Regions from separate parts of the Homo sapiens genome. Here all the other regions are linked to region 1. Evidence: fine-mapped expression QTL. A gene starts in region 1. Each other region holds a variant in brackets. All regions are shown on one strand. Distances are between the middles of the regions.

The links.
Region 2: its variant is fine-mapped to the expression of LINC02145 in esophagus muscle (GTEx, PIP 0.96).
Region 3: its variant is fine-mapped to the expression of LINC02145 in thyroid (GTEx, PIP 0.95).
Region 4: its variant is fine-mapped to the expression of LINC02145 in spleen (GTEx, PIP 0.93).
Region 5: its variant is fine-mapped to the expression of LINC02145 in whole blood (TOPMed, PIP above 0.99).
Region 6: its variant is fine-mapped to the expression of LINC02145 in tibial nerve (GTEx, PIP above 0.99). The same link has a PIP of 0.9 or more in sun-exposed skin and visceral fat.

The regions. Positions count from the first base shown.
Region 1 is chr5:6,334,975-6,339,921 of GRCh38, reverse strand. LINC02145 (long intergenic non-protein coding RNA 2145) reads left to right here and starts at 2,630. Exons shown (of 2, transcript NR_028351.1): 1 at 2,630-2,772.
Region 2 is chr5:6,405,026-6,409,972 of GRCh38, reverse strand. It overlaps LOC124900933 (a long non-coding RNA gene), which reads right to left and starts at 773. Exons shown (of 2, transcript XR_007058678.1): 1 at 646-773. RefSeq lists enhancers at 1,103-1,397, 593-1,792. The variant A/T (reference allele first, on the strand shown) is at 2,392.
Region 3 is chr5:6,307,539-6,312,485 of GRCh38, reverse strand. It overlaps LINC02145 (long intergenic non-protein coding RNA 2145), which reads left to right. Exons shown (of 2, transcript NR_028351.1): 2 at 1-2,045. Among named protein-coding and RNA genes, the nearest start is that of LINC02145, 27 kb to the left of the region's middle. The variant T/G (reference allele first, on the strand shown) is at 2,585.
Region 4 is chr5:6,385,115-6,390,061 of GRCh38, reverse strand. No RefSeq gene overlaps it. Among named protein-coding and RNA genes, the nearest start is that of MED10, 9.0 kb to the right of the region's middle. The variant T/A (reference allele first, on the strand shown) is at 2,567.
Region 5 is chr5:6,364,204-6,369,150 of GRCh38, reverse strand. No RefSeq gene overlaps it. Among named protein-coding and RNA genes, the nearest start is that of MED10, 12 kb to the left of the region's middle. RefSeq lists a silencer at 1,567-1,734. The variant G/T (reference allele first, on the strand shown) is at 2,585.
Region 6 is chr5:6,378,726-6,383,672 of GRCh38, reverse strand. No RefSeq gene overlaps it. Among named protein-coding and RNA genes, the nearest start is that of MED10, 2.7 kb to the right of the region's middle. RefSeq lists an enhancer at 4,672-4,891. The variant C/T (reference allele first, on the strand shown) is at 1,969.

The DNA.
Region 1 (4,947 bases):
TTACAGGCATGAACCACCACACCGGCTCACAATTTTATTGTTTTACAGTCCTGAGGTTGGAAGCCCGGCACTGTCCCCCTGGGTTAAAGTGGAGGTGTCGATAGGGCGGGTCCCTTCTGTAGCTCCAGGGGAATATCTGGTCCTTGCCTTTCCCAGCTTCTAGAGGCTCCTGCTTTCCTCGGCTAGTGGCTTGTGGACCCTTCTGTCTTCAGAGCTGGCAGTGTGCGTTTCTCTGTGCCTTTCTCCATAGTCATATCTTCCTCTGACCCTGACCCTCTTTTCACTTTTGAGGAGTTTTGTGATTACACTGAGGACATGAAGACCATCCAGGACAAGTGCCCTCTTTCAAGGCCTGCTGATTCCATCTGCAACCTCAGTGTCGCCTTGCCACGTTACCTAACATAGGCACAGGTCTGGAGATCAGGACTTGGATGTTTTTAGTTTTTTTTTGGAAGTACTGTTCTGCCTTCCACACTCTCTGCAGCTTTTCTGGTGGATGCTGCATCAGAGGTAAGGAGATGCCGCCTGCACCACCCTCCACTGCCCACCCACACACCAAGCTGTAAGGTTGGGTTAAGTTTCTGATGCAACTAGGCAATGTGACCCCACGAAAGGGGCAGAGGGGCACCTGTCACACATGGGCACAGGCTGTGGGGCCAGCTGGCTGGGCTCACATCCTGGCTGCACCTCTCATGAGCTCTGTAAGCTCCCTGGGCCTCCCTTTCCTCACCTGTGAAATTGTCACAGCATGCGCACCTGCCCTCTGTGCCATGTGGGACTTGGGGGAACATCTCTAAAGCCCTTTGCCAAAGGCCAGTCAGGTAGCAAATGCTGTGTGAGGGTTTGGGACATAAACACACACTGGCAGCATGCCTGAGCGAAGCTTCCGTGGCCTTCTGAGTGTCTGGCCAGGTCATTCTGGGAGCTGTCAAATACACCTGGCTGTCTTCCTTTTCTGGTCACATGGTTCTGGACCCTTTGTCCTTTGTTGGGGCCATTGGCTTGTTCTGGAAGCTGTGCTGAGAGCACAAGTGATGTCGAACACCCCAGGTCAGAGTGTTACCATGCCAGAAGGCCCCAAACACAGATGCTCACCCCAAACACATTTTGCTGTTGGCTTCCTGGCCTAGATTCCAGCCAGGGATCCTCCTAAGGAACCTCTCTGGTCTCCTCCCGAGCTTGCAAAGAGAGGTCTGAAGAAAGCTTGCGATTGCTGAGCATGGGGGCTGGAGCACTCAGCGCCTGTCGCTCACATCTTATTTGAATTTCAGAAAAACAGGAAAAGTAAATGCATGAGATTTTTCTATTCAATTTCAAAGCCTTTTCCCAAAAGTGACTTTTGATAACTGTCATTAAAAGGAAATAGACACAGTATAAAAAAAAGCAAAAATCTTATAATGTAAAAATTACTTGATTTCCTCTGCTTTGCCACTGGTTTAATAAAAAAAAAAAAGCTCCTTTTCTACTTAAAGCTGGCATGATCATTGAATTCATAGACTTATGTCGCTGCTGGTCTTAGTGCTTAATATATACAGTGACTCATTCTACTTAATGGCATCAACAACAGATGCAGAGAAAATGCTTCACAAGCCCAAAGATTGCAGTTGGAAAACCCCGTGCAGTGGGAACAATTCTTTACTAGCCCTAATTGAGGGCAGCTACTCTTTGTGCTTGCCTGTGACAGTTTTTTTTTTCTCTCTCTTTTCCCTCCTCTCCTTACGTGTCCACCCAGATTCTGCAACCCATAGATGGTGGTCTGTGCAGACCAGCAGCCAGAGTCTGCCTTTGGCCTCTGATGCTGTTGTCCTCAACATATTTTCTCCTTCTGCACCCCTGCCCACAACTCCTCTGTGCTCCCCCTCCTCAGGGCTACTTCCTACCTGAGGGAAGATCAACCAGAGGGGGCTGGTGATCAGGACCCAGGGCAAGGGCTCCAGGGAGAGTGAGCTCACATTTGCTGGGAACCTGGGAGCACACGGTGCTGGGGAACCTGCCATCCCCCAACTCAAGTGTGAACGCAGAGCTGGATTTCAGCATCACTCAGGCCCTTTGTAATATTTATTTTGTGCATTTCTTTTTTTTTTTTTTTTGAGATGGAGTCTCACTCTGTTGCCCAGGCTGGAGTTCAATGGCATGATCTCCGCTCACTGCAACCTCCGCCTCCCTGGTTCAAGTGATTCTCCTTGCCTCAGCCTCCTGAGTAGCTGGGATTACAGGCGTGCACCACCATGCCTGGCTTATTTTTGTATTTTTAGTAGAGACGGGGTTTCACCATATTGGCCAGGCTGGTCTCGAATTCCTGACATCAAGTGATCCACCTGCCTCGGCTTCCCATAGTGTTGGGATTACAGGCAGGAGCCACTGTGCCCAGCCTATTATGTGCATTTTAAGACAATATTTTATAAAAGGATTAGGAACTTTTTCAGGCGGTTGAAGAGAGCTCTATTAGAACAAAAAAGGTTGAGAATTCCTGGTGGAGATAAAGTGCAGGGAGAGAGAAAAGTTAGAGGACACGCTCCCTGTCCTAGGACTTTGGGGTGGCAGGGCCCTGAGGCTCTGAGAGCAGCCCAGACTTTGCCCTTATTCTCTGTGTTTCAGGGCCTCGCTACCTTTCCAAGGCAACATCGTTCTTGGAGCACCTGCTGAGGTGCTCTCTGCTGGGGGCCGTAAGTGAGCATCGAAAAAGCTGTAAAAAGTATCCCTGCTGCTCTCCAGGGACTCACAGCATGGACGGCACCTGCATTGAGAGAAGACGGCAATGGTATCGTGATGGTGAGTCTGTTGCCGCTGTATAGAGAAATGGGGAGGGAGAACTCAATTGCAACTTGGGAAGAAGATCATCTGGGAGGAGGTGGAGCCTTTCTGTCTTGAAGGTTGGGTCTACCTCCAGGTGTGAAGGAAGGACATTTCATATACAGGGGAAAGAGGTTTAAAGTATGGAGCTGGTGTGTGTGTGTGTGTGTGTGTGTATGTATGTGTATTTGCACCTGGAAGCATGAGTGTGTGTGCACGTGTGTGCTGGCATCTGGGTCTGTGGTCACAGATGTTTGCACATGTGTGCATGTACCTCTTTGTGTGTGCATGTACCTCTTTGTGTGTGCATGTGTGTGTGGCTTATTTGTGAAACAAAACCAAAAGCCAGATGAGGAAACTTTATGGGAAGCGAAGTCTGAAGACAGATGGGGCCCAGGCTGCAGACATCTGGAGGGCCAGGCTGTGAGGGCAGGGCTTTGGCTGTGTGCGGGGCAGTGGGAAGCCTAGTGGGGTAGGAAGGGCCACTTTGAGATGGTGCAGTGGTGACAGGAGAACACGATGACTGAGGCCAAGAGCTCAGTTAATATTTCAAGTGGGATGTTGTGAGGCCTGAAATAAGGCTGACATGGAGTGGGTGGGGAGGAGGGATCTGCATCATGGGACCCCCTACTCTGGAAGTTGCTTGGCAGCTGCCCATCAATCATTGAATAGACATCTGTTGAGTTTCCTGCTTCCTGCCCTGCACTGTGCTAAGTAACAGAGGTACAGAGCATCTCAGTCACCTCCATGGTACTCAGACCCCCTCCCAATGCGGTCACACATTGCTAACAACAGTGCTGCCAAAGGAACAGCTGAGCACTATGTGTGCGGGTGGTGCTAACTCTTGCATGTGGGCTGTGCCAGGTGTGTGCCCAGCGCTTCCTCAGGAGGCATTAAGGAGCAAGCTTCCAGATACCCGCTTCTCAGCCCAGCTCTGGCTGTTGAGCTGCTTCCCCCTGTGGGATGCTGCAGCTTCCTAACTGCTGCAGTTTTCAAAGTGTGCAAATCTGATCTAGAGAAGTAAGGCCACTAGCTCCAGATGGGCCCACAGCTGTTGGGTTCAAAGGGCTTCAACGAGCCACGATTATTATCTGTGGTCTTGATAATAAGATCATTATCTTATTCTGTGTTCCTGTAATAACGACGTGTTTGTAAATGTTGACCCTGCAAGGTGACAGGTAGATAAAAATGCCTATGGTTCTGATAAATAGTCATTGGATATTTATGTCATCCAAGGGTGGTGGCTTTGGAGTGTGGAAGGTAATAATAAGACAATAATCTCGTGATAATAGTCTGAGATGAATTATATCTTTAATTATGCTTAAAATAACTTTTAAAGAATAAGTAAGTGAATAAATAAGCAATGTGACAAATAAACAACTGGTGTCAACAACTCTAGAAGTTTGGGGAAAATAAGTTTCTAAAATTCCTTGACCCTCCTTCCATCAAGAGATGGGGTCTCTGTCCCCCTTTGAATCTGGGCTCCATATTTCTTGGCCAATACCTCTTTCCCCTGTATATGAAATGTCCTTCCTTCACACCTGGAGGTAGACCCAACCTTCAAGACAGAAAGGCTTCACCTCCTCCCAGATGATATCCTTAGAGAATGGAACTTCGTGTCTGATGACTGAAGTGAGCTTAGGCCTCCCTGGCCAGCTACCAGGGCCTTCCTATGTGCTGGCACTGGGAGGTCTGTGTCCTGAGCTCGCCTGGCCCTCAGGCTGGGCACACACCGCACACCAGTGAGCAGCAGCCATGTGGTGCTGGCAGCTTGGTGGGCACAGCAGGCATGGCCACGAATCTAATGCCTGACAATGACAGGTGTTGGAGCATGTGTCTTAAGCAAGCTGGACAAGGTGTGCATCAGCCAGCAGAAGGGAGACAAGGATGAGCCTGCTGCCCATCTACACTCAGCTCCTGTCTTTGTCTTCCTCAGCCAGTGGTGAGGTGATCTATAGTGGTTCTGGGACAGTGTATTATGGCAGAATCAGGTCCTGGGAGGTGAGCGTGGCTTCCTGCCATGAGCTACCACAGCTCAGATGCCTAAATATTTAGTGCACATTCTGTTCATCTTCCTATAGACTGGGCATTCAGAGCACAAAATGCTGTTGCAATTCTTCCTCCCATAGGAGGGCATCTTGAATGTGCCAGGGC
Region 2 (4,947 bases), 70 kb before region 1:
GCCCAAGATTTGGTTGCTGGGACCATCTAATGCCAGTATCTCCTGTATTGCACATTTATCCCATAGGCCCATGTGCACCTGGATGGCAGGTACAACAGGACGACCCTTCTCTCCCAGGCCTGAAGTGGGCTAGACCCTCCTGGACATTGTGTGTCAGATTCTCCCTTTCTCTTGCTGAGCATGTAGCTGTTTTGTACCCTAAAGGAGATATTGCAAGGTTCTAGCCAGCGCCTTATTCTTTAATAAACTTTTTGTTTCGGAATAATTTTAGATTTGTAGAGAATTTGCAAAGATAGCACAGGGTCACACAGGGATGGTTCCAAAAGTGAGCACATTCCTAAATTCACACTCCAGCACCTCAGTTACCTACTCCTAAATCTAGCTACATTCCCGCGTATCCTTCACCTAGCTTCCTCTCATGCTCCCATCTAACGTGACCATCGTGCTTTTGCTACAGCTAAGAGATGAAGGTTCGTGCATTCCTATGATCCAAACACTAGACTTCATTTGGATTTCACTCATTTTTCTACTTATGTCCTCTTTCTCATCCAGGATCCCACACTGCTTAATCTTAGTTTGTTTGTGCTGCTGTAACAGAATATCTAAGACTGGGTAGCTTATAAATAACAGAAATGTATCTCTCACTGTTCTGGAGGTTGGGAAGTCCAAGATCACAGCGCCAGCAGGTTCTGTTGTCCAGTGAGGGCTGCTCTCAGCTTCCAAGGAGGCATTTTGTTGCTGCATCCTCCAGAGGGGAGGGACGCTGTGTCCACCTGTGGCAAAACAGCAGAAGAGCAAGCTAGCCAAATGCTGCACGAAGCCTCTTTATGGGGGCCTTAATCCTATTGACAAGGGAGAAACCCTCATGGCCTAATCAACCCTTAAAGGCCTCACCTCTTGATACTATCACATTGGCCATGAAGTTTCAACACCTGAATTTCGGAGAGGACACATTCAGACCACAGCATTGGTCATGCCTCTTTAGTCTCCTGTGGTCTGTGACAGTTTCTCAGCCCTTCCTCGTTGTTTTTCCTGACCTTGACACTTTTGAGGAGTGCTGGCAAGGCATTTTGTAAAATGTCCTTTCATTTTGCTTCTCTGTTGTTTTCCTCCTGTTTACACTGGGTTTCTGGGTAATTTTTGGAAAAAATACCACGAAGGTGAAGATTCCTTTGTATTGCATCATGTCATGGACATGACATCACTGGGGATGATAACCCTGACCTTTTGGGTTTGGGTGGTGTCTGCCAGCTTCCTCCGCTGTCATGTTACTACTTTCCCTTTGCTCTGCTCTTTGGAAGTGAGTCACTAAGTGGAGCCCACACTCAATGGGGCAGGGGCGGTGTTAAGCTCCACGGATGGAGGGGAAAGTTCACATACATTATTTGGCTTTTTTTTGAGAGGTGGGTCCACATGTCCCCTGAATTTATTTTTTTGCCAACAGATAACGAAAACATCAGTAAGGCAGAGAGCTCTTGTTCAGTGATGACATGACAGATGTTAGTGTCTGGTGTCTGGATGGCCAGTGCTACAGGAGTGGCCGTGGTACCCCAGATGATGGGGCACCTAACCAAAGGCAAGAGGTGGAGCTACGTGAGCCTGATCAGATGATCTGCTGACCTCAGTCCTGTTTTGGAGAGCTGCACTGACCACTAACCAGGAAACGAGGCTCTGCCCCAGCCCGAGACCTGCTGCCAGGCCTTGGTGGTGTCAGGGAATGGGAAAGCTCCCTGGCAATACATAGACAGTCATAATTAATGGAGACATCACAAGACAGTTTCCTGAATGAAGGTAGAAGTGACAACCTCCTCTTCAAGGCTATAATTAAAGAAGCAGTTGAGAAATGTTATCTTTCCAATCCTGCATATTCAAACTTATCTGTCACAAACATATTGTTAAACTCCCCCTTAGGTCTCGGTTGTCACTTTCAAATGCCTGCTTGCAGCCACGGTTTATTATGCCTTTACTCTTGAGTACTTTTACAGAGCACTTATGCCTTTCGAAGGGCTATCTAGGTCTTCCGTAGGAGGGTGAGGGTTCAAAGCAAAGCAAATCCACCTTAGGTCTTTTATCAATTGTTCCAGGTACCTGTACTGGGAACAATCTCGTAAAAAGCCCAGCTTTTTTAGATGCATTTTCTTCCTGTTAGGTTTTCACATGGGAAGATCAACAGTGTTACCAAAAATGGACTGGAGTCTATAAGTCATTAATTGAGCTCTGTCCAGGGTGCCTAGGATTTTGTTTCTCTCATTTAAAATATTTTAATGCAGTAGCTTTTACTTGTGATATTTATTTATTGTTGAATCTCTTCAGAAGAGGAGAAGCACTTTTCACCCCCATGGCCAGATCTGTGCCTATAATCTCTGGAAGGAGAAGAGGGAAGGAGACTCG[A/T]ATTGCATTTGCAGGGTCAGCACAGGACTGAGCCATCGTTTCTTTTTGTTGCAAGTTTGTGATGTTCAGATGACACGAGGCAGGATTTGTGCCTTGTTGCTGCTCAGGGCTGGCGACACCGTGGGTATTCCATTATCGTATTGTAATCACAAAGAAAGCAACGTGGTGGCTCCGAATTCACGCCTGCTGGATCAATACTGCTTGTCTGGTCTGATTTGTTTGTTGTTGTCAAGTCAGACTGCTCTGGAATTGGAATATTGAGGGGAATGCATTTCAGACATAATCGTGGGAAATCCTCAAAGAAGCCACCCTGATGAGAGAGCAGAAAAACTTCTGGATAAGATCTGCCAAATAGCTGAAGTTACAGTGTCTGAGGGGCTTATTTATTTCATCCCCAGGATCTGTTAATTACTTCCTCTCCCCATTTTATTAGAGGCAGAGTGTGGCTGCTCCCCACTTCCCCCACCATTATTGCTTTGTTCTTGGAGTGGGCAGAATGGTCAGGCTAGGCTGTGCTATGCATTTTGTTCATTTCTTCACCTGGAGACACACATCCCTCTGCCCTATGATGACTGACTCATTCCCAAGGTTTCTGGGCTGATGTTAAGGTAAATGCTCTTTTCTGTACAGATCCCATACCTTCTTTGAAACAGAATCCTATGAACGCTGAAAGCAATGTGGGTTCAGAAAGTGTTGTAAGGGGTAGAGGGCGTGGAGGCTGGCACAAGGCTCGCAGCTCCCTGAGGTCTTTGTTCTTCTCATCAGCAGCTCCTGCCTGGATCTGCCCTGTTTGTTGTGATGTTGAATCGGGTCACCACCCAAATGACAGCTGGCTTTGGTTTAACCTGTGTTTTTCCAGAGAAGCCTTTGGCGTGGAATGGGCATTCCTGGAGCCACTGGAATTGTGTGGTGGCAGGAGCCCGGAAGCTGGTATGCCTCTGTGAGAGTATCCTTGCTGAGGAGTGGGGGGGGTGGGGGGGCACAGCTATTTGACCTCTAGGGCACCTCACCCCCCGCAGGAACAGGGTATGGCCTGTGCAAGCAAAAATACGCGATCAAGCTGTGTCTTTCTGCAGCCAGTTGTCCCATGGTCAACTCTGAGGGCTCCTGAGATGGACCATGCTATGAAATTGGAGCTGTCAAGGAGGAATCAGGCTCATTACAGAGATCCCTGCTCACCAGTGCTTCTGCCACAACAATAAGTCATGCCATCAATTTTCAAAGTGCTGATGCAAATGCCCATGGATCATGTTCAAGATTTTATGAAACTTAATTAAACAAGATTATTCACCTGTATTATGTAACTGTACATGCATATTTGCACTTAACAGTATTTCTAATTCAATGTCAACATCACAATTCACAATGAAATATGACCCTGAAAATGAAAGATGGAAGTTGACATGAACACTTTTAAAAGATTTTTAATGTGCTTCTCACTGAGATATGTAGCATTTTCAACTTTTGTACAATCTGAAATGCATTCAGCACATTGGTAAAGAGCTGTGCAGATTTCAGTTAAAAAACAAACAAACAAACAACAACAACAACAAACAAACAAAAAACACAAACTGTTGCTAAAGCCAGAAGGGACATTTCAAATGGCTTTTTTTTGAACTACATTCCATGGAAAAATTTTATTTCACTTGTGCCATAGAAACATGGGCTTCTGGCACTGGGACAAACCCTACAGGTCATTGGTCACAGAGCCCCATTTTGCAAGTGAGTGACCAGAAGCCCAGAGGAGGAAAGTGGCCCACCAAGGCTGCCACTAACGAGGGGAGAACCATGCACTTGAGTTGGGGCTGATGGCAGTTCTGGGCATGCCCACTGTTTGCTCAGGGAGATGCAGGCCTTGCTGGCTTCGGAAGTAACATCCGTGGATTTGACATCCCCGCCCCCCATAGATCCTGTTATTCTCAAGGCTCCTTTTCTTATATTTTGAAATTTTCTTCCAATACTTTGCCAATATTAAGTTACTTGCTAAGAATGCTGGGCAGAAATAATCAGATGGAATAGCCAAAAGATCGGTTATCACATTCAACTAGTACAGTCCTGCTACAAAACCACCTGTATTAAAACAGAGAGAATGGCAGGCGCCAGATGGTTGAAAAGGGAACTTTATTTGTGTGTGCCAAGTGGAATTGAGAAATATTTGGTCAACAAATATTTCTCAGGCTGGGCCTGGTGGTTCACGCCTGTAATCTCAGCACTTTGGGAGGCCAAGGTAGGTGGATCACTTGAGGTCAGGAGTTCGAGATCAGCCTGGCCAACATGGTGAAGCCTCATCTCTACTAAAAATACAAAATTAGCCAGGTGTGGTCGGGGGCTCCTGTAATCCCAGCTACTCGGGAGGCTGAGGCAGGAGAATCACTTGAACCCAGGAGGTGGAGGGAGGTGGCAGTGAGCCAAGATCACACCACTGCACACTCCAGTCTGGGCGACAGATTGAGGCTCCATTTCAAAAAAAGAAACCCAACAAATATTTCTCATTGAGATTCTGTATCCTGATGTGCATTGATTTCAAAATTGATAAGTTTTTTATTTTTTATTTTT
Region 3 (4,947 bases), 27 kb after region 1:
ACATGTACACGTGCCCAAGATGGATCGGCCGCTCAGCCGAGCCTCCCAGTGCTGCCTGCCAGGCTGGAGGGACCCGTCTTCTAGGGACATTGCACTCCCCTGCTCTTCTGAGCTGACCCAGTCTTGAACCCCCCCTTTTTTTCTGGCTCATGTGGTGCTGCCTGGTGTCAGAGCCTGGCCTTCTCATATCTGCCTTGTCCCTGCACAGCCTGAACGCAGGCCCCCAGAATAGTCCTGGCTCAGGGCCTGGAAAAAAAATCACCTAGTCAGAACACCAAATTACAACTCAGAAGGTTGCTTAGTGAGCATAAAATTGGAGCAAAGAGAAGTGGATATTCTGAAGGGATGCTTCCGATGTGCTGTGGTAGCAAGATGCATTGTTCTTTTCGACTCTGGGGCTATTTCCAGAAAAAGACCTGGGAGGGGACCTCTAAAATTGGGACATCCATCCTCCCAGACAGTGCTGAAGGGCATGAATGCACTCCTCCCTCTCCTTCCTTTGTTTAAAATATTCCTATCATTCTCCAAAGGCCTCCGCAATTACAGCATTATGCATTACAGGTTTCAAGATTGCATTTAATCTTTTATTAGTTCCATCTGCATCACTTGCTTCCTGATGAGATTTTGAGGAGTTGCCTTAATCTCATCAGCCCTGTATTTACAGATCTTATCCTCATAGGATTGCCTCTGGGAAGATTTTTGCTGATGGGCAAATCTAACCATTAGAGTCAAGGCCTGGATTTCATGCCACTAATCATGTCCATAGCCTGCATGCGGACAGATCACCTGCCCCCCTCGGGTTCCCAGGGCCTCCTGCTCCCAAGCTCCTCTGCCTATTTGCCCACAGGCTTTGCTTCTCTCCCAATGCAAGTGTGGCTTCCTCAGAGGCAGGTCTCTGAGTCTCCTGGCCAGGAAAGACCCTCTGATATGAACCTGTAGCACTGCACACCTCCCTTCATAGTGCCCAGCCGTCGTTATTCTTCCCACCTTTAGGGTTTGAGTAGATGACTGTGTGTATTCATTTCCTAGGGCTACTGTGACAAAACATAGATTAGGTGGGTCCTACAGTTCTGGAGGCCAGAAGTCCAAGATGAAGGTGCCCTCAGGGGAGGATCTGTCCCATCTCTCTCCCTAAGGCTCCCTTAAGACTCTAGGGAGGATCTGTCCTGTGCCTCTCTCTGTTGCCCAGGCTGGAGTGCAATGGCATGATCTCGACTCACTGCAGCCTCCGCCTCCTGGGTTCAAGTGATTCTCCTGCCTTAGCCTCCTGAGTAGCTGTGACTACAGGCGCCCAACACCACGCCTGGCTAATTTTTGTATTTTTAGTAGAGGTGGGGTTTCACCAGGTTGGCCAGGCTTGTCTCAAACTCCTGACCTCAAATCATCTGCCTGCCTCGGCCTCCCAAAGTGCTAGGATTACAGGCATCAGCCACCACGCCTGGCCCTCTCCCAGTTTCTGTTGGCCACAGAGGTCCCTTGGCTTGTTTCCACACTGTGCACTCTAATCCTCCATCTTCACATGGCCGTCTTCTCTCTGCATTGTCACATCATCTTCTCTCTGTGTATGATGGTGCCCACGTTTCCCCTTGTTTTAAGGACACCAGACATATTGGTTAGGGCCCAAACCCTGAGGCCATTAGGCCTGATTTTACCTTGATTATCTCTGTTGGGACCTTCTTTCCAAATAAGATCACATTCTGAAGTCCTTGGAGTCAAGACTTCAACACTCCATGGCATCCTAACGAAGTCATTGACTTTCTTTGTTGTTACTTTCAGCATATCCCCTGTCTGGCACAAAGGGAGCACAGTTGACCTGTGAACAGTGCAGAGGTTAGGGACTCAGACCTACCTTGCAGTAGAAAATTTGAGTATAACTTTTGATTCCCCCAAAACTTAAGTACCGATAGCCTCTGTTGACCAGGAACCTTACTGATAATTTAAACAGAAGATAACACATATTCTGTATACTATATGTGTTATACGCTGTATTTTTACAATAAGGCAAGCTAAAGAAAATAAATTGCTAATAAAAAATCGTAAGAAAGAAAAATATTTACCATTCATTAAGTGGAAGTGGGTCATCAAAGGGTCATCGTCCTTATTATCTTCATGTTGAGTGAGCTAAAGAGGAGGTAGAAAAGGAGGGCTTAGTATTGCTATCCCAGGGATGGCAGAGTCAGAAGAAAATTCACATAGATGTGGATCCACAGGGTTCAAATCCACGTTGTTCAAGGGTCAACAGTACTTCATAGCTGTCTGTTGAAGTATGAATGAATGAATGAATGAATGAATGAAAGACGGTTATCTAAGGTCAGGTCATCCCTCCTCCAGGCCCCATGCACATGTGCTACCCTTCACCATAGAACTGCTCACAGGCAGCTAGAGGTGGTCTCATCATCCAAGACCCAGTCTTTCTCCTCCAGTCCTCATGATTGAGAATCTGAGTTTGTGGAAATATTCAATGAATTTGCTTTTATCTTCCCTCCCTCAGATTAATGAACAGGAGAAGGAGGTGGGACAATAGAAAGAATATGGTCTTGGTAAGGGGCATCATTGCCAGATTTAACAAATAAAAATATAGGAT[T/G]CCCAATTACATTTGAACTTTTCCCAAAATTGTGTAAGATGTGTTTATTAAAGTTATTTTTTGTTTATCTGGAATCCAGATGTAACTAGGCATCTTGCATTTGCCTGGCAACTCTGCTGTGGTTGGCACCTTATTGGTGGACTAGATTATTGAAAGTTGCAGGCAGATCCCTCCACAGATTGAAAAGTGGGAGGTAGAAGGATGAGGAGCAGATGTGGGTAGGGCAGAGACTCAGGTAGATGTGCAGTGGCTATCTTTGGTCTTTCATCCTGTTACTCCTGTTTAGGAATAAACAGCTCCAGGACACCTCTCCGCTTGTCACCTCTCCCTCTCCATTTATGCCATTTTCTCTCTTTCTGCCTCTTCTTTGCTTCGTCTATGTGTACTTACACAGTTCTTACATGTAATTACTGACTTAACACTAGTAGTGTTTTCTGTTCTAATCCCTGTCTGCAAGCAATTGGCCTTGCATCAGATGCCCAGGATTGACTATTCGACTTCCAAGGCCATGTTCCCACTGTGAACTGACCTTTCATTGTTTGTGGATGACTTCCAATTCTCCACACTCAGGGACAATCTGGGTTTTACAGAGAAGCTTTCTAGGTACTAGGTGACAAGGTCTATTGTTATTCTCACCTACAAAATGGCAATAGCAATAGGCTAACCTCATACATTGTAAGGATTCAATTCAATAACTCAATTAAGGTATCATGGATGTAGAATATAGTAAGCACTTAAAGATGTTAGCTATAATCATTATCATGTTCACCACCACCACCACCACCACCACCACTATTTCATTATTATTATCATCACCATCATCATCACTATCATTGTCATCATCATCACTACCACTGTCATCACCATCATCACCATCATCTCCATTGTCATCATCTCCATCATCATCATCACCATCACCATAATCTTCATTCTCACCATCATTACCATCACCACCACCTCTATTATCATCATTGTTATCATCTCCATCATCATCATTACCATCGCCATCACCTCCATTATCAATGTCATAATCACCATCATTACCGTCATCATCACCATCTCCATTATCACCATGATCATCATCTCCATTATCACCATCACCATCATCACCATAATCTCCATTATCACGATCATTATCATCATCATCACTATTACCATCATAATCATCATCTTAAATCTCACCATCATCATCGCCGTCATTACCATCACCATCATCATCACTGTTGTTAAAAATCATGAGCATCATTGTCACAATCATCATCATTTCACCCATGTATCTGTTAGGATGACTTTTCCCCCTAAAAACCTGGATTGAGTTTAAGTTCTTATTTCACCCCCATGGAATAACAGTGCTTTCACCAAAATTTTAATAAATTCTCCAGCTGCATACATCCTAAAGGTTGCCTTTGGGCCAACAGGATCCTGCTTCTACTGACTTAGTCTGCTGTAGCAATTATCTTTCCAGTGAGCAAGTATGATCCTCTATCTGCATGGCTTTGATCCTGACATGAAATTCATCACTCACCTAAGAGTTTAAATATGTAGAAGACTTTACAGAACTTTCAGAGACATGGTAGAGTTAGTATTGTAGCTATGCAAACTTAGTTTTAGATAGTTCTGTTCACAGCAGCCCCTCTCCATTTCTTCAATCTGTTTCTCATACTTCTGCCATGTTAGCTCCTTCTTTCTTCCTCTTATTCTCTCAAACCAACCCCCAATTTCTTTTCATATGTGCTGCATCTGCTGATAATTTATGTTCTCAAAGCCTTCCTTTTCTTCTAAGTAGCTCATTAAAGTGTTTCCCTAAACACTCTTCCCTTTCTAAAACTGAGTCTGGCATAAGCTATTCAAATATTAAAAGTTCTACTGAACTACAATTGGTTTGAAAGCTGCAGTGAACAGACTGGACTGCCTTCTTTTAAAGCACACTTTCCCTTTTAGCAATATAATTCTATTCAACTTTTGCTTTCAATGTGTGGCACCAAATCTCTTTCATCTCAAAAAGGCAGCAGTCTTTTCAAGAATACTCTGGAAACACCTTTCCCTTAAATGTTTTATTTGATTATCAGCACTGCATTATCACTATTTTCTAATTATCGTCATACGGTTTTGGTCACACTTAATGAATAAAAAGTAATGGTAAAAAAGAAACCCATTCTAAAAAGCTTTCTCAAGATACAGTTGAGAAAATCGAAAGATTTAAGTGTGTGCTGGCTGAGAAGCCAGACTAAAGCCAGCCTCAGAGGATGGACTTCCATGCATGCAAGCAACTGCTAGAAAGGCTGCCCGGAAGTGTTCCTGCAATTTAATCCTGAGGCTCACATGTCAGCATTATTGTTGGTGATTGGGTTTGCTTCTGAGGG
Region 4 (4,947 bases), 50 kb before region 1:
TAGAAACTGATAGAAGGAAGCCACGTTTACCAAATGCCTTCTACATTCCAGGTGCCATGCGAGATGCTCCACACATCAATAGGCACATTTCTTCTATTTCCAGGAGGAGAAATCTGATGTAAGTGAATCCAGCAGGGATCTGTTCACTGGGTGCAGCGAAGTCAAAGACTGATGTTGGGATAGTAGCAAGAGAAAGTGAGGCGTTTATGTAGGGCCCCAAGCAAGGAAAATCAGGCATCCCATGTTCAAGACCCAACTCCCAGATGGCTCATAGGTGAGGGTTTTTACCAACGTGGAGGCAGAGGTTACAAGTAAAGTCATAAATTCAAATATGGAGACTATACGTTGGTTTGACCTAAAAACGTAGGACAACTGGAAGTTGGGGGCCCACAGGTTATAGGTGGATTTAAAGATTTCTGATCTGTGATTGGCTAAGGAGGCAAAGCTTTGTCTAAAAATGTGGGATCAGCAGAAAACAATGTTATTAGGTTGGTGCAAAATTGCACGTTTTGCCACTGAAAGTAACAGCAAAAAAAAAAAAAAAAAAAACCTGCAATTACTTTTGCACCAAACTGATAGCTCTAACTTGTGGGTGTGACGTTCCCAGGCCCCTTAGGAAGAAATTTAGAACAAAGAACAGTGACCAGAGTTTAGTTTTTAGTTTCCCTTAATTTGAGGTCTATGTGTTAGCAAATCTGTTTGGTGGGGGTTCAGGTTTTTGAAAAATAACTCAGGGACATATGTTAAGGTGTTATTTTCAGTTTTTATAGGGAATAACATATCTCTTGACTAACTTTTTTGGCTACTGTTTTAAGCTACTATTATCTTTTTGTTTATTCAGTTATTTTTCAGTGTGAGCTAGGTGCCTGGAATTTTTCCTGAAGGAACTTAAGAGTTTTCTTTATTTCTTCACTGGGCAGGGGGTGACCTGCAGGCCCCTAGGAGGAGTCCCTGCTCCATCTCACTGAAGACCAAGACAATTCTAGAAATGGGCCAAAGTCATATACCAAAGAAGTACTGGGGCTGCGTCCCTTCCTGGCCATACCTGAGCTCCACTTTAGACAGCCAGGGGGACATAAGAAATGCCATTTGGGGTCACTGAGGGCTCAGTGTGGTCATGAGCTCCTTGGTGGGAAAGTACAATGGCTCTAGTTTCTTTTTTTTTTTTTTTTTTTTTTTGAGACGGAGTCTCGCTCTGTCGCCCAGGCTGGAGTGCAGTGGCGGGATCTCGGCTCACTGCAAGCTCCGCCTCCCGGGTTCACGCCATTCTCCTGCCTCAGCCTCCCAAGTAGCTGGGACTACAGGCGCCCGCCACTACGCCCGGCTAATTTTTTGTATTTTTTTAGTAGAGACGGGGTTTCACCGTTTTTTAGCCGGGATGGTCTCGATCTCCTGACCTCGTGATCCGCCCGCCTCGGCCTCCCAAAGTGCTGGGATTACAGGCGTGAGCCACCGCGCCCGGCCCTCTAGTTTCCAACATTGTCATTTATGAATTAAGTAGAATGAATGCTGCATTTATTTATATTGTAAACAAAAATTTATATTGTAAAAACAACCCCCCCCCCAAAAAAACCCACCAAACACTCAACTTTTTAGCTTAATAAATTCAGCGAACTCTATTTCTTATTGCAGAAGCAAAAATTCTCTCATTTGTTTGCTGTGGTAAGAATATGATGCCTGAAGGATCAGATACTCAACTCTACACCCTTTCTTGGCAAAATATTTACCCAAGTTTCAATTTCTTCATGAGAAAATGGGGAGCAATCATACCCAGCCTAGGGAGGATTGTTTTTGATAATTATATTTAATATATGTAAAATACCTAGTACAATCCTTGACTTTGGATAGGTTGTCAATAAATGGCATCATCATCATCATCATCATCATCATCATCATCATCATTACTGTTGCTTATCCTAATGTGGCACCCACAAGAATGCATCTTTCAGATATCTGATGGTAAGGGCAGAATTAACCAAGGGCCCTAATGCTCTCCTTTGAAATCTATTGCACTTTTTGCCTCCATGGGCTGCTCAGCCAATGACTGAGTGAGTGATGCAGGAAGGCTAAGGTTTGTCCATTCCTGGGGACTCTGCTGGTGAGCGATTTTGGTTTGGGGGCTTCTCAGTGGTCTTACCAAACTCTCCTTAGGACTGTACCACAGTCTAAGATGCTTCTAGACTCCCTTTGTTTCCTCCCTCCCTCCCTCCTTCCTTCCCTCCCTCTCTCCCTCCCTTCTTTTGGGATCAGACCTGCATTTTGTTCTGATGGTTCTTCCAGCCATGCTGGTTCCCTTTTTCTGTCACATGTATTTCTTCTAAGAAAGTTCTTGTTTAATCCCATCCTGGGATCTGCTCCTCAGAGGACGTGGACTAACGAAACTACAGCCACCTTCTAGAAAGTGAAGGAGGTGAGCCCAGTTCTCTTGTCTTGCGTATTAATAGCCAGGTATTTGTTCAAAGTTGTGCAGATGTTGGTCCTGTCTCCTCTGAGCTTCCATCCTCCATAATGAAGAATTTTCATATATTCTTACTTAGTTTTCTGAAAAAGCGCTTTCTTTTTGCTT[T/A]TTTCAGATGCTTTCTGCTGTACAGTCTCCTGGTTATCTGTCTTTCTTGATCAGAACCGGAGCAGGTGTTCCAGGCCTGCGTGCACCACGATTTTCTGCAAGGTAAGACTTTGTTTTCTGGGTCATCCACAATGAGAAGAGCATATGTGAGAAGAGAAATTGAGCATAGCTCATTTCTCTTTGGAGTGTTTAAGACAAACTTAGACTTCAACTGAAAGTCATTAATTTTTACAAAACGCTATGAGATAACAGGGCTTACACCGTGTGCCGAAAGACCCAGGAGGGTGAAGTTGCTATGCAGCCTAGAAAAGTTTGTATTTCTATGCTTGTGTGTATAATCTGCTAAGGAGTTAGATGTCTTACCTTATCCCTATTTCTGTAATGCTGTCCTGCCCTCTCTTTTGAGCTTGTGACAATTTGTAAAAAAAAAAAAACAACAAAACAACAACAACAACAACAAAAAAACAAAGCTGATAGTGAAAGCCAACTGCATACTTCCATTTGCTGATTGGATCACATGCCAGTCTGTATTAGTGTAATCTCATCTTTTTGCTTTTAAAAATTTGATCACATACATCACACAGAATTCCAGGTAGAGCTGCACATTGCTGCAAATATTGCATAGAAAGGAAAACAGAAGAGAAGAGAAATCTTACGGCTTCTCAATGCTTGTTAGTGTAAAAAAAGATACAATTTCTATTTTTTTATTGCACAAGTCAGGCACTCTCATTGGTATGTGAATCTAATAGAATGAACGGGAAACCTAATTTATTTGAACATTCATGTGTCAATGTAGCTCTTGAGGGAAAATAATGTCAGCATTTTCTATCAGATGAAATTATTCTGTCTCCTAATTCTGTATTTAGGGATACTTTTTTGGCTTTCTTTTGACCACATATGGTTCAAATTATAGTAGCTTCCTTTAGGGTTATGAAGAATAAATGAGACAGTCTATAATCTATAAAATATGTTCCAAAATGGCAGATATTGTCATCAGTATGATCATGACCATCACCATCATCACCGTCATCATCATCACCATCATCATCAAACAACAGAGTTGCAAATCTTCCCTTCTGCTAGAACTACTAATGTGCTGAAAATCTTCAAAGTGAGAAGCAGAAACCAGCTGTTCCTTCCTCTGGGTAGGAGAGCTGCATTTTTTTTTTTTAAACTTAAGCTGAATCTGGCTCTTAGAATAAATTAGAATGAATGGCAAAACATGTTCCAAATGATACCACTAAGGGCTTTGGATGCTGATGGAGCGATAATAGTGTGAATGAAAAAAAAAAAAAGGTAAAGAAGAAGGGAAAAAACAGCCTCCAGATTTCAAGGTCACCAAGTATCAGAAGTAAGGAAATTTCCTAGGGGCAGCTCATGTCGACTTCGGAGGGAAAACAAGGCGACAAAACGTATAGTCAGCAATGCTCTGTAGGCTTTCTGCACACGGCTTCCTACCAGGCCGACCTTCTGACTTACTGGAATTTTCCAACCTAATTTCATTTACATTTGGGGACTGGAGTGTTGAAATGTTAAAACGTTTCTTATAAACAAGCCAACAGTATTATGTTGCTAAATAAAGGGAAAGCAGCCATTACTTAGCTGTTTGAGTAAAAGGAAGAATTTCAATGTAGGTTTTTTGTTTGTTTATCTTTTTGTTTATTTATTTTTTTTTTTGAGACGGAGTCTCGCTCTGTCTCCAGGCTGGAGTGCAGTGGCGCGATCTCGGCTCACTGCAACCTCCGCCTCTTGGGTTCAAGCGATTCTCCTGCTTCAGCCTCTTAAGTAGCTGGAATTACAGGCACCTGCCACCACACCCAGCTAATTTTTGCATTTTTAGTAGAGACGGGGGTTTCACCATGTTGGCCAGGATGGTCTTGATCTCTTGACCTCGTGATCTGCCTACCTCGGACTCCCAAAATGCTGGGATTACAGGCGTGAGCCACCGTGCCCGGTCTCAATGTAGGTTTAAGTGGGCTTGGGATGCTTTTTGTTTCAGCAGGGAACAATCTTCACTGGAGTAGTCATTGTGGACAACTGGGAGATGAGTGCTTTAGAAACTGTAGCTGATGGTTAATCACAGGGACTAACACCATCATTATGCTCGTTATGGCCTGGTCCTGAATTAAACATCCCGCGATCACAATACAGACAACGAGTGCTGCTGGTCTTGAGCAGAGAAGGAGGGGTGTTACAGTTGAGTTATATCCCCTCAAAAAAGATATGTTGGAGTCCTGACCTCCAGCGCCTCCAAACGCAACCTGATTTGGAGATGGCATCTTCACAGAGGTAATTCAGTGAAAAACTCCAGTCATCAGGGTGGGCTCTAATCCAACCCGACTGGCGTCCTCATGAAAAGGGGAAATTTTGGCCACAGAGAC
Region 5 (4,947 bases), 29 kb before region 1:
AGGTCACCCAGCTAACGAATGGGAGAGCTGGGCCTGTGCCTGCCACGTCACAAGACTGTGGCTCTCCTGGGCTTAGTTTATCAGCTCCCATTGGGTACCTGTGTGCTTCCCAGTTCTTCACTAATATGAAGTTATTATCTTTGACCATACATCTTCCACTTGTTCAATTGTTATTTAGGGTAAATTCCTGGAAGTTGAGCTGTTGGAGTTACACTTGATTAGGATTGTGATACCATCTGTCTCTATTGTGCTCAAGTCCTGAAATAACCAGGTGTTAGGTACAAGGGGAAGCGCTCATCTTTGGGGAGTATCAGTAATGTCACTGAGTAGTTTATCAGTTTTCTGTGTTCTTTTTTTATTTCCATTTTTTGAATCCTATCAAATATATATGAGTGCCTCATTAAAATATTTCTACAGTCAGTGACAATACAGGTGCTGGCTACAAACGAGGTCACATGTTTACCCTGTATAGCCAGGTGAGCCTGCTGTGTTTCCTGCCACTCACCTGCACAGAAGTGACCCATCTGTCCAAGTGACAGAGGTGCCATTGCCCCAAGGGAGTTCGACAATATACAGTCCTTGGTTCTGTCAAGACTCAGGTGACGTTAGGTGGCAGGTGTACCACTTCTTAAACTTTTTAAATGTATCACAAACCTAAGAAGTTACAAAGGAAAAGATCGATACATTTGGCTGTATAGCTGTTAGAAAAAAATAAATAACATAAGGCTAAAAACACCATAAACTCAAAAGGCAAAAAAGCTAAGAAAGTTCTTTTTTTTTTTTTTTTTTTTAAAAATAGAGACAGGGACTCACTCTGGCCCAGGTTGGAGTGCAGTGGCACAATCATAGCTCACTGTAATCTTAAATTCCTGGGCTCAAGGGATCCTCCCACCTCAGCCTCCTGAGTAGCTGGGACTATAGGTGTGCACTACCATGCCCAGCTAATGTTTTTTATTTTCATTTGTAAAGATCAGGTTTCACTATATTGCCCAGGCTAGTCTCAATCTCCTGGCCTCAAGTGGTCCTCCCTCCTTGGCCTCCCAAAATGCTGAGATTATAAGTGTGAGCCACTGAGCCCAGTTGTAATACTTATTATACATATCACAAGGAACTTCATGACTACTATGCAGAGCTCTTTCACAAATAAGAAAACCCAGCAGAAGAATAGGCAGGTGTTAATTTTTACATTATATAAATTTTACATTATATAAATTTTACATTATATTCAAGCAATAACTTGAATGTCCATTAATAATGGCTTAGATAAATCGTGCTTTATCCATTTGCTGGATAACTGTGCTATGACTAACATGAATGAAGGAATGAAGATCTGTATGTATTGATACAGAAAGACGGACAAATACATAATTACAAAACACGTTGATTCAGTCAACATTAGCTGAGGGTCGGCCTTGTCCAAGCTCCATCTGAATGAGTTTCTCCAAGGCAGACTTCTGCCTACTCGTGGCAGAACCACCAAGGAGCTTATTAAAATGCTGAATCCAGACCCCATTCCAACCAGCACAGCTTCCGGAGAGCCCTCTCTTTCCTTGACTTCTAAACAGCATGCTCCAGCAGAGGTTCAGGTTTGGGTTCCTCGAGGCATCTTTCCTTACCCACCCTCTCCCTGGACAAGCTCATCTATTCCCTGGCACCGGTTACCATCCTGTGCTGAGATTCCAGGTTTATAGCCCAGCCTAAATGAGTCCTACACTTCTGTAACCCAACTTCCATTTTTTTCCCCCTCTGCTATTCCCCAGGAACCTCCAACTCAGTGTCTCTAAAATTACACAGATACGTTTCCTACCCAAGTCTCCCTCTGTGTCTGCCTCAGAAAGTGGCATGAACTTTCAGCTGGTCATATCATCTTTGCCTCCTTTCTGTCCCTCCCTCTTCCCCTGCCCTGGTATCATTGCCATCACTAAGTCTCCTAAATACCCCATTTCCTTGCTTTTATTTATTTATTTTCACTCCAGTCATACTCGTATTTCATCCTCTCAGTCCACCACACCTCCACATAACTCACCTCTTTCCTGGCTCACCTGTGCGCATCTTTCAGGTTGCAGTGTAAAAGTCATTTCTGTTATCTCACCTTCTCTGACACCTCAGACCAGTGCTGGTCTGTTTGTCAAACTCTCCTTTGACATCCAATAAGTATCAAAGGTAGCTCTCAGAGTTACAGAGGAAGTATCTGACCTTCAAGACTGTCATCTCCTTAAGAGTCTGGACCACACCAGCCTCGTCCACTACTATACCCTGGACTTATCACAGTGACTGAGACGTAATGGGTACATATCAATTGTTAAACGAATGAGCAAACTGATGTATGCATTTGGCCTCAAATTCTATAACACAAGTAAGTCTGGGTGTTTAAAGAACCAGCAGCAGTGTTTGTCTTCTTCTTTGTACCAAAAGATTCTCTTCTGTGTTTTTGGAAGAAAAATAACTAAATGACACAAAAAGAAAACAAATGACATGACTTGGTGATAAGGAAGAAATACTGTGGGTGGCAGTGGGAGTCACACAGCTGAGAAAGCCAGAATTTTTGCAGATGGCCCTGGCATACACGCGCTTCAGCAGAACT[G/T]CGGGAGTGCAGATCCTCTGAGGGTAGGACGGGCTGCAGTGTGTGGGACCACCAGGCCATGGGGCAGGAGAGGTGTGTGCATAGGTCGCTGCCGGCAGGAGGCATGGGGAGAATTTCTGTGTCCCCAGCAGTGTGGCAGGAAGCCCCTGAGGACGCTCTGCCAGAGGAAGACTTGAACTTCCTCATTTCCCAGGTGGAGGTCAGTGCCCCCTTCCTGAGCTGGTAAGTACAGGTTCTCCACGGAAGACACAGACAGAAGCTCCAGCTTGTCATTTATACACATACAGTTTCAAAGCCACACACATACTGGGCTGTTTGTTTTTGGTAAGTGCACGGCAAACACAGAGTTGGGATGCACGTGCCCGTGTAATTTTAAACACATTGGAAAGATAGAGGAGGCCAGTTCTAATTTGAGGACTGTCTAGCTGCAGTGATTTATCGTACACAGACCTGAAGCATCACCACACTGCCGTGTTGGCACAGATGCAGATGGCATCGTTCTCACTGGTTTTTGGAGACTAGAGCCCTCTGAAGTATGAATACCCTGCTTACAAGCAGGCCGAATGGCATAGCGGTTGCATCACCAAGCTGATTGCTAAGCCAGGTGTTTTGTAGGCAGAACATTATTATTTTGAATAAACTCAATAGCAACTTTTTAGTATCAACATAAACCCAGCCTTTCAGGGGCTGGCTGACTGGCCATGGGCGTGTGGCTGGTCAGGGAGGGGCTGGGTGTCCAGCAGCATCCTGTGACTCACAGCCCTGTGCTCCATCCACTTTGATACTGGAAGGCTTGCACGCACCATGTGTACTCAAATGCTGAAGCTGAGACTTAAAAAAAGATTCCTCCAAAACAGTCATGAAGTCTACGTGGTTTGAGGTGCCCAAGCTGACCCATCTGGGGGTGTTCCCTTACCTGGGTGGACACAGCTGGGGACCCAGCTCCTCCATCCCTCTCTGGAGCCCTGTCAAAGCCCAGGTCTGCTAGACAGTGTCCCTGCGGTTGCCCCGATGATCCTGCCGTTTGAGGCTTGGCCTCATCACAGGGCTTGGCTCTGGAGGCAGATGTAGCAGCTTCGATGGCGCCACTGCAGAGGGCAGTGCCAGCTGCCATTGTCCTCGGGAGCCCAAGACCAGCATCTCCAACTCTGTGGAGAGACCCTGGAGCTGTTCCACAGTAAGAGGTGTTGATCACTGACTCTGGATCGGGCACTGTGCGCAGGTTTGAGGGATGGTACCTCGTTTATCCCCAGACCCATTCCACTCACAGAGGGGAGCCAGGGTCCCGAACAGGGAAGGGACATCTCCGGGGTCACACATGCAGTAGGCCAACTGCAGCCTGGATTTTGCTGGGAGGAGGCGTCTGCTGCTCAGACTGCCTTTGGTCATTCCATCAGAGAGAATGTGCTAGAGGTGGAGGGCAGGGGGTACTGAGGGAGATGGGGAAGGTGACTTGCCTCGTGCTGCGCGATACTAGGTGGGCCGTGCTGTGTGTGCTGGTCTCACCTTCAGCTTGCAGGAGCTCTGAGCACGTCACACCCTGAAACCACTGGGGCTGTACTCATTGCTGGTTGGGGCGAGCAGTGGAATGTATTGGGATGGTTGTTCAGGCAGAGTGTGAGTGGGAATGCAGGTGCCAAGGTGATCAGTAACCCCTGCATGGAAGATGCCATTTCTTCCAGCTGCCAAAGAGCTGCATTAGGAGCAGGGACCTCAAGGAACCCTGTTTTGGTTCCTGCTCCAGTCCCAGATTCCCGGTTCTGTTTAGAAGGCAGCCTCTAAGTAATAGAGCTAATTCATTTCAATATGACAATATATATACACACATATGTGTGTATCCATATGTATGTACTTACAAGCTCCATGTGCATGCATCTGTGTGTGTGTGTGTGTGTGTGTGTGTGTGTGTGTGTGTGTAGTCATCCAGTCTTTTAGGGACTTAGGGATAAGGCAGGGCAATTGGGGAAGTTTGCACATGGGAGCCTGGACTGGGTTGAATGGTTCTTCCCCCAAAATCGTGAATCGTGTCCACCTGAAACCTCAGAATGTGACTTTATTTATTTTTATTTTTATTTTTATTTATTTATTTATTTATTTATTTATTATACTTTAAGTTTTAGGGTACATGTGCGCATTGTGCAGGTTAGTTACATACGTATACATGTGCCATGCTGGTGCGCTGCACCCACTAACTCGTCATCTAGCATTAGGTATATCTCCCAGTGCTATCCCTCCCCCCTCCCCCACCCCACAACAGTCCCCAGAGTGTGATGTTCCCCTTCCTGTGTCCATGTGATCTGATTGTTCAATTCCCACCTATGAGTGAGAATATGCGGTGTTTGGTTTTTTGTTCTTGTGATAGT
Region 6 (4,947 bases), 44 kb before region 1:
CTGTCGGGGGACTTCCCAGGCAAGGTCATAAGAGGTGGTGCTGCTTTCACCTGCTTCTCCTGAGCTCTGTGCTCTTGGCACCCTGCCACCATCAGGGAGGAAGCTCCCAAATCCCAGGGACACACCCACACGGGGGGGATGTGTGGTCGCCAGCCCACAGCCCCGCTGAATAAGCCATTGTGAAAGCAGGTCCTTCAGCCTCCAGTGAAGCCACCCCAGCCCATGTGACATGGAGCAGAGAGAAGCTGTGAACGCCATGCACAGGCCACAATGCAGATTTGTGGGTAAAATGAAGGACTGAGGTTGTTTTACGCCACTAAGTTTTGGCATGGTTTGCTATACAGCAATAGATGCCTGATGCATGACAACTGATCTAATTCTGATAATATCTTACTTAAGACTTTTGTATCTACTTTCATAAGGAAGATTGACCTATATTTTCTTGTATTGTCCTTGATGATTTTCATATAAAAGTTATACTGCTCTTTCAAAATGAGCTGGGATGTATTTCTTCTTTTTCTAGTCTCTGAATGTATCTGGGTAAGTTTGAAATTATTTGTTCTTTAATGTTTGATTTTTAAACAATTAGTATAAAAAACTGTCCGAGCTTATGTCTCTCCTATCTTTGAAAGAGATTTTTGCCTACTGGCCAGTTTATTGAAAGACTAGGAACTATTCTAATTGTTTATTTTTCTTAAGTTAATTTCTGGTAGTTTCCTAGAAAATTGTTTATATCTTCTAAGCTTTCAAAATTATGAACATATAAGTTTTACCCTCACCCTCACTCATTTATAATACTGTATATTTTTCTCTTTTAGCACCTTTCTTTTCTTCTTCTCTGATGAGACTTGCCAGAAGTATATATATTTGACTCATCTTTTCAACAATCAACTTTTCTTCATTTTTATCTTTCCAGCTTCGAATGCAGCTAGACAGAAAACTAATGCAATAGTTCTCATTTTCATCAGTGTCTGTCTTTACTTTTGTCACCCCTTTTTATGTATTTTTTGGTGCCTGTGATTTCCCTTTTGATTCTTTTTATCCTACTCTTTGAGTTGAAACTCCAGTTTATTTTTTCCAGGCTGTTTTCCCTCAAATTATTACCTCAGGAGTAAAGCAGAAGTTTGACAGGGAATTCTTGTCATTTAATTCCAAATGTTTTATAATTTTCCTTTTAAATAGGATGTCCACATAACGTATCAACCAAACTGGGACATGTTTGACAGTGAGTGGAAGAGTGCTATTAATAATCACACGAAGACAACAGACATAATTGGGTCTTGCCCATTCTCAGATGTATGTAAACTCATGAATTATTTAGAGTGTGTTTTGATTTTCGAACGTGTATGTATGTGTAGAAAATGAATAAATTCATAGATTTCTACTGGAATTACGAGGTCAGAAAATCTGGTCTATGTGATAGGATCTGAGTTTGCTGAAACTTTCTTTGTGGTCTAGGGAATGGTCAAGTTTTTGTAAGTATTTGAAATGTGCTTGGAAACAATCTATTCTTCAGGGGTCACTGTTTTTCAGAGATCACAATTCTTAATATATTACTTAAGTCTTCCATATTCTTCATATGCTTTTTGGCCTACTTGATTTATTGTTTTCTGATAGAGGTACTCCAAATCCTCTGTAATAATTATGGATTTTGAATTTTTCCTCATATTTTGTCAATTTTTGTGCTAGATAATATGGGACTATGTTGTCAGTTGCTTATAGGTGAATAGTATTCTATCTTTAATGAGTCTTCTCTTTACCATTAAAAGCATCTTTTTAATGTTTCTTTACTAACTTTTATATGCATTAACAACTTTCTTTTGGTTGCCTGCCATATATTATTCTATCCTCCCTCTTTATTTTCAACCTGTCTATAAGTTTGTTTTAGGTGTACCTTTGAAAAGCAACATAGCTAGATTAAAACAACAAAACAAAACACTTCCAATTGGATTCTAATCTGAGAGTCTA[C/T]CCTAACAGTTAAATCTGTTAACATTTAACTGTTAGGATAGACTAACAGTTAAATGTTAAATTAAATAATTAATTAATTAATTAAATTAATTAAATGTTAAATCTGTTAACATTTACTGTGTTCACTAACGTATGTTTTTAGTGGGGAAGGCACACATTTAATGACAGGGAACACAGTTCATGATACACTTTTTAATTTTATTTTTAATTAACAAATAATAATTGTCTATTTTTATGGGGTACAGATGTTAGAGGCATTTGAAGCAGAGCAACTCCATCTTGAATAGGAGCTGGGTAAAATAAGGCTGAAACAAACCTACTGGGCTGCATTCCCAGATGGTTAGGCATTCTAAGTCACAAGATGAGATAGGAGGTCGGCACCAAATACAGGTCATAAACACCTCACTGATAAAACAGTTTGCTGTAAAGAAGCCAGCTAAACCCCACCAAAACCAAGATGGCAACGAGAGTTCTCACTGCTATACTCCCACCACTGCCCTGACAGTTTCCAAATGCCATGACCTGTTAGGAAGTTACCCTAAATGGTCTAAAACGGGGAGGCATAAATAAGCCACCACTTGCTTAGCATACAATCAAGAAATAACCATAACAGCAAGTAACCAGTAGCCCTCGGGCCGCTCTGCCTATGGAGTAGCCATTCTTTATTCCTTTATTTTACTAATACACTTGCTTTTACTTTACTATATGGACTCACCCTGAATTCCTTCTTTCACAAGATCCAAGAACTCTCTCGGGGTCTGGACTGGGACCTCTTTCTGGAAACACAGATATCTCTTTGACATAGTGATTTCAATTCCTTTGAGTATTGTGAAAGGAAAATAAATTTTGGGGCCCCCAAATCACTAAGCTAAAGGGAAAAGTCATGCTGGAAAATGCTCAGGGACAACCTGCCTCCCATTCTATTCAAAGTGATCCCTTTGCTCACTGAGATAGGTGCATATCTGATTGCCTCCTTTGGAAAGGCAAATCAGAAACTCAAAATAATGTAACTATTTGTCTTTCACCTACCAGTGACCTGGAAGCCCCCTCCCTGCTTTGAGTTTTCCCGCCTTTCTGGACAGAACCAGTGTATACCTTACACTTACATATTGATTTATGTCTCATGTTTCCCTAAAATGTATAAAACCAAGCTGTGCCCTGACCACCTTGGGCTCATGTCATCAGGACCTCCTGAGGCCGTGTCATGAGTGTGTGTCTTCAACCTTGGCAAAATAAACTTTCTAAATTAACTGAGAACTGTCTCAGATATTCAGGGTTCACAGTATATACTCAGAAGTAGGACTGCTGGATCATATGGTAATTCTGTTTTTAGAGTTTTGGGAAACTTCCATTCTATTTTCCATAAAGGCTGCACTAATTTACATTCCCATCAACAGTGTACAAGGGTTCCCTTTCCTCCACATTTTCACCCACACCCATTGTCTTTGGTCTTTTTGATTATAGCCCTTCTAACAGTGTAAGGTGACATCTCATTATGCTTTTAATTTGTATTTCCCTGATGATATGTGATGCTGAGCATTTTTGCTGGTCATTTTTATGTCTTCTTTTGAGAAGTATCTGTTCAGGTCCTTTGCCCATTTATAAATTTCTTCTTTTGCTTTTTTGCTGTTGAGTCGTGTGCCTTTAATTTTTGCACTTTACGTTGTGAGTTTTATTTTCCATGCTTGTTCTTTGCTTCTTTATTCTCTTCTTTTCTTGCCTTCTATTGAGTTGATTGTGTTTTCTTTATTCCCTTCCCCCTGTCTACTAGTTTGGGAATTATATATACTAGCAAAGAGATACCCTTAAATTTTTAAAATAAATACTTACCAAAGCCTAAGTTCCATCAATTATCTATCTTTCTTACTTATGAAATTGAGAAAGGCCGTTCACTCCATGTCGCTACCTCTACCTAATAACTTAAAATTTTTTATTTGTCTAATATTTTATTTCCACCTTTTTTTTTTTTTTTTGAGTCTTGCTCTGTTGCCCAGGCTGGAGTGCAGTGGCATGATCTCGGCTTACTGCAACCTCTGCCTCCTGGGTTCAAGCAATTCTCCTGTCTCAGCCTCCCAAGTAGCTGGGACTACAGGCGCACACCACCATGTCTGACTAATTTTTGTATTTTTAGTAGAGACAGGGTTTCTCCATATTGGTCAGGTCGGTCTCGAACTCCTCACCTCAGGTAATCCACCTGCCTTGGCCTTCCAAAGTTCTGGGATTACAGGCCTGAGCCACCACGCCCAGCCTCCATCTTGTTTTATAATTCCCTAAAGTTAATTGTTGTTAAATCAGGAGAGAAGTATTTTATGTAACATTTCTGTTTATCAGCCCAGCCCACCAACTGGAGTGCCCTGATTCCATAAGTTTGGCAAGTCACTTACCTTCTCTGGCTTTCCATTTCTGGTCACAGCTGGGAGAGGCTCTGAAGATCATCTAGCAAAGGAGCTCCCTCACTTTGCCTGTTTCTAGGCACTGAAAAGTACAGGCCACAAATATATTCAGTAAAATAAATCACTTGAGAAATTCAAACAGGCTAGAGGAGATATCCGCTATCATAGGAGATCGGGCAGAAAAGTTTCTTAAACATAAGAGTGAAATGACCTAAACTGAATTTCAATGAGATAAACAGCAGTTTACTAAGACAGGGCAACCCCACAGGGTGCTGTTTGGTCAGAATTGGCCCGAGGAGGTGAGACCCTGACCTACGAAGGCAGCAGGTGTCCGGGAAGCATGGTTAGCAGCAAGAGCTAGGGGAGGTGGCCGCCGATTACATAGAAGAAAGGAGGCAGGCAGGCGCTGATCCCAGGGGTTCTGGTAGAGGGGCAGGGAAACTACCGTTATTGGTCCTTCATGCAAACTTTAGGATTTTCATCCATGTGTGTATTGCTTGAAGATGCTGCATTGCAGAAAGTCTTCAACTTCTCCCATGACCGAGGCAGGTCTGATGAGAGTGCAAACAGTTAGTACTCGCCCAGC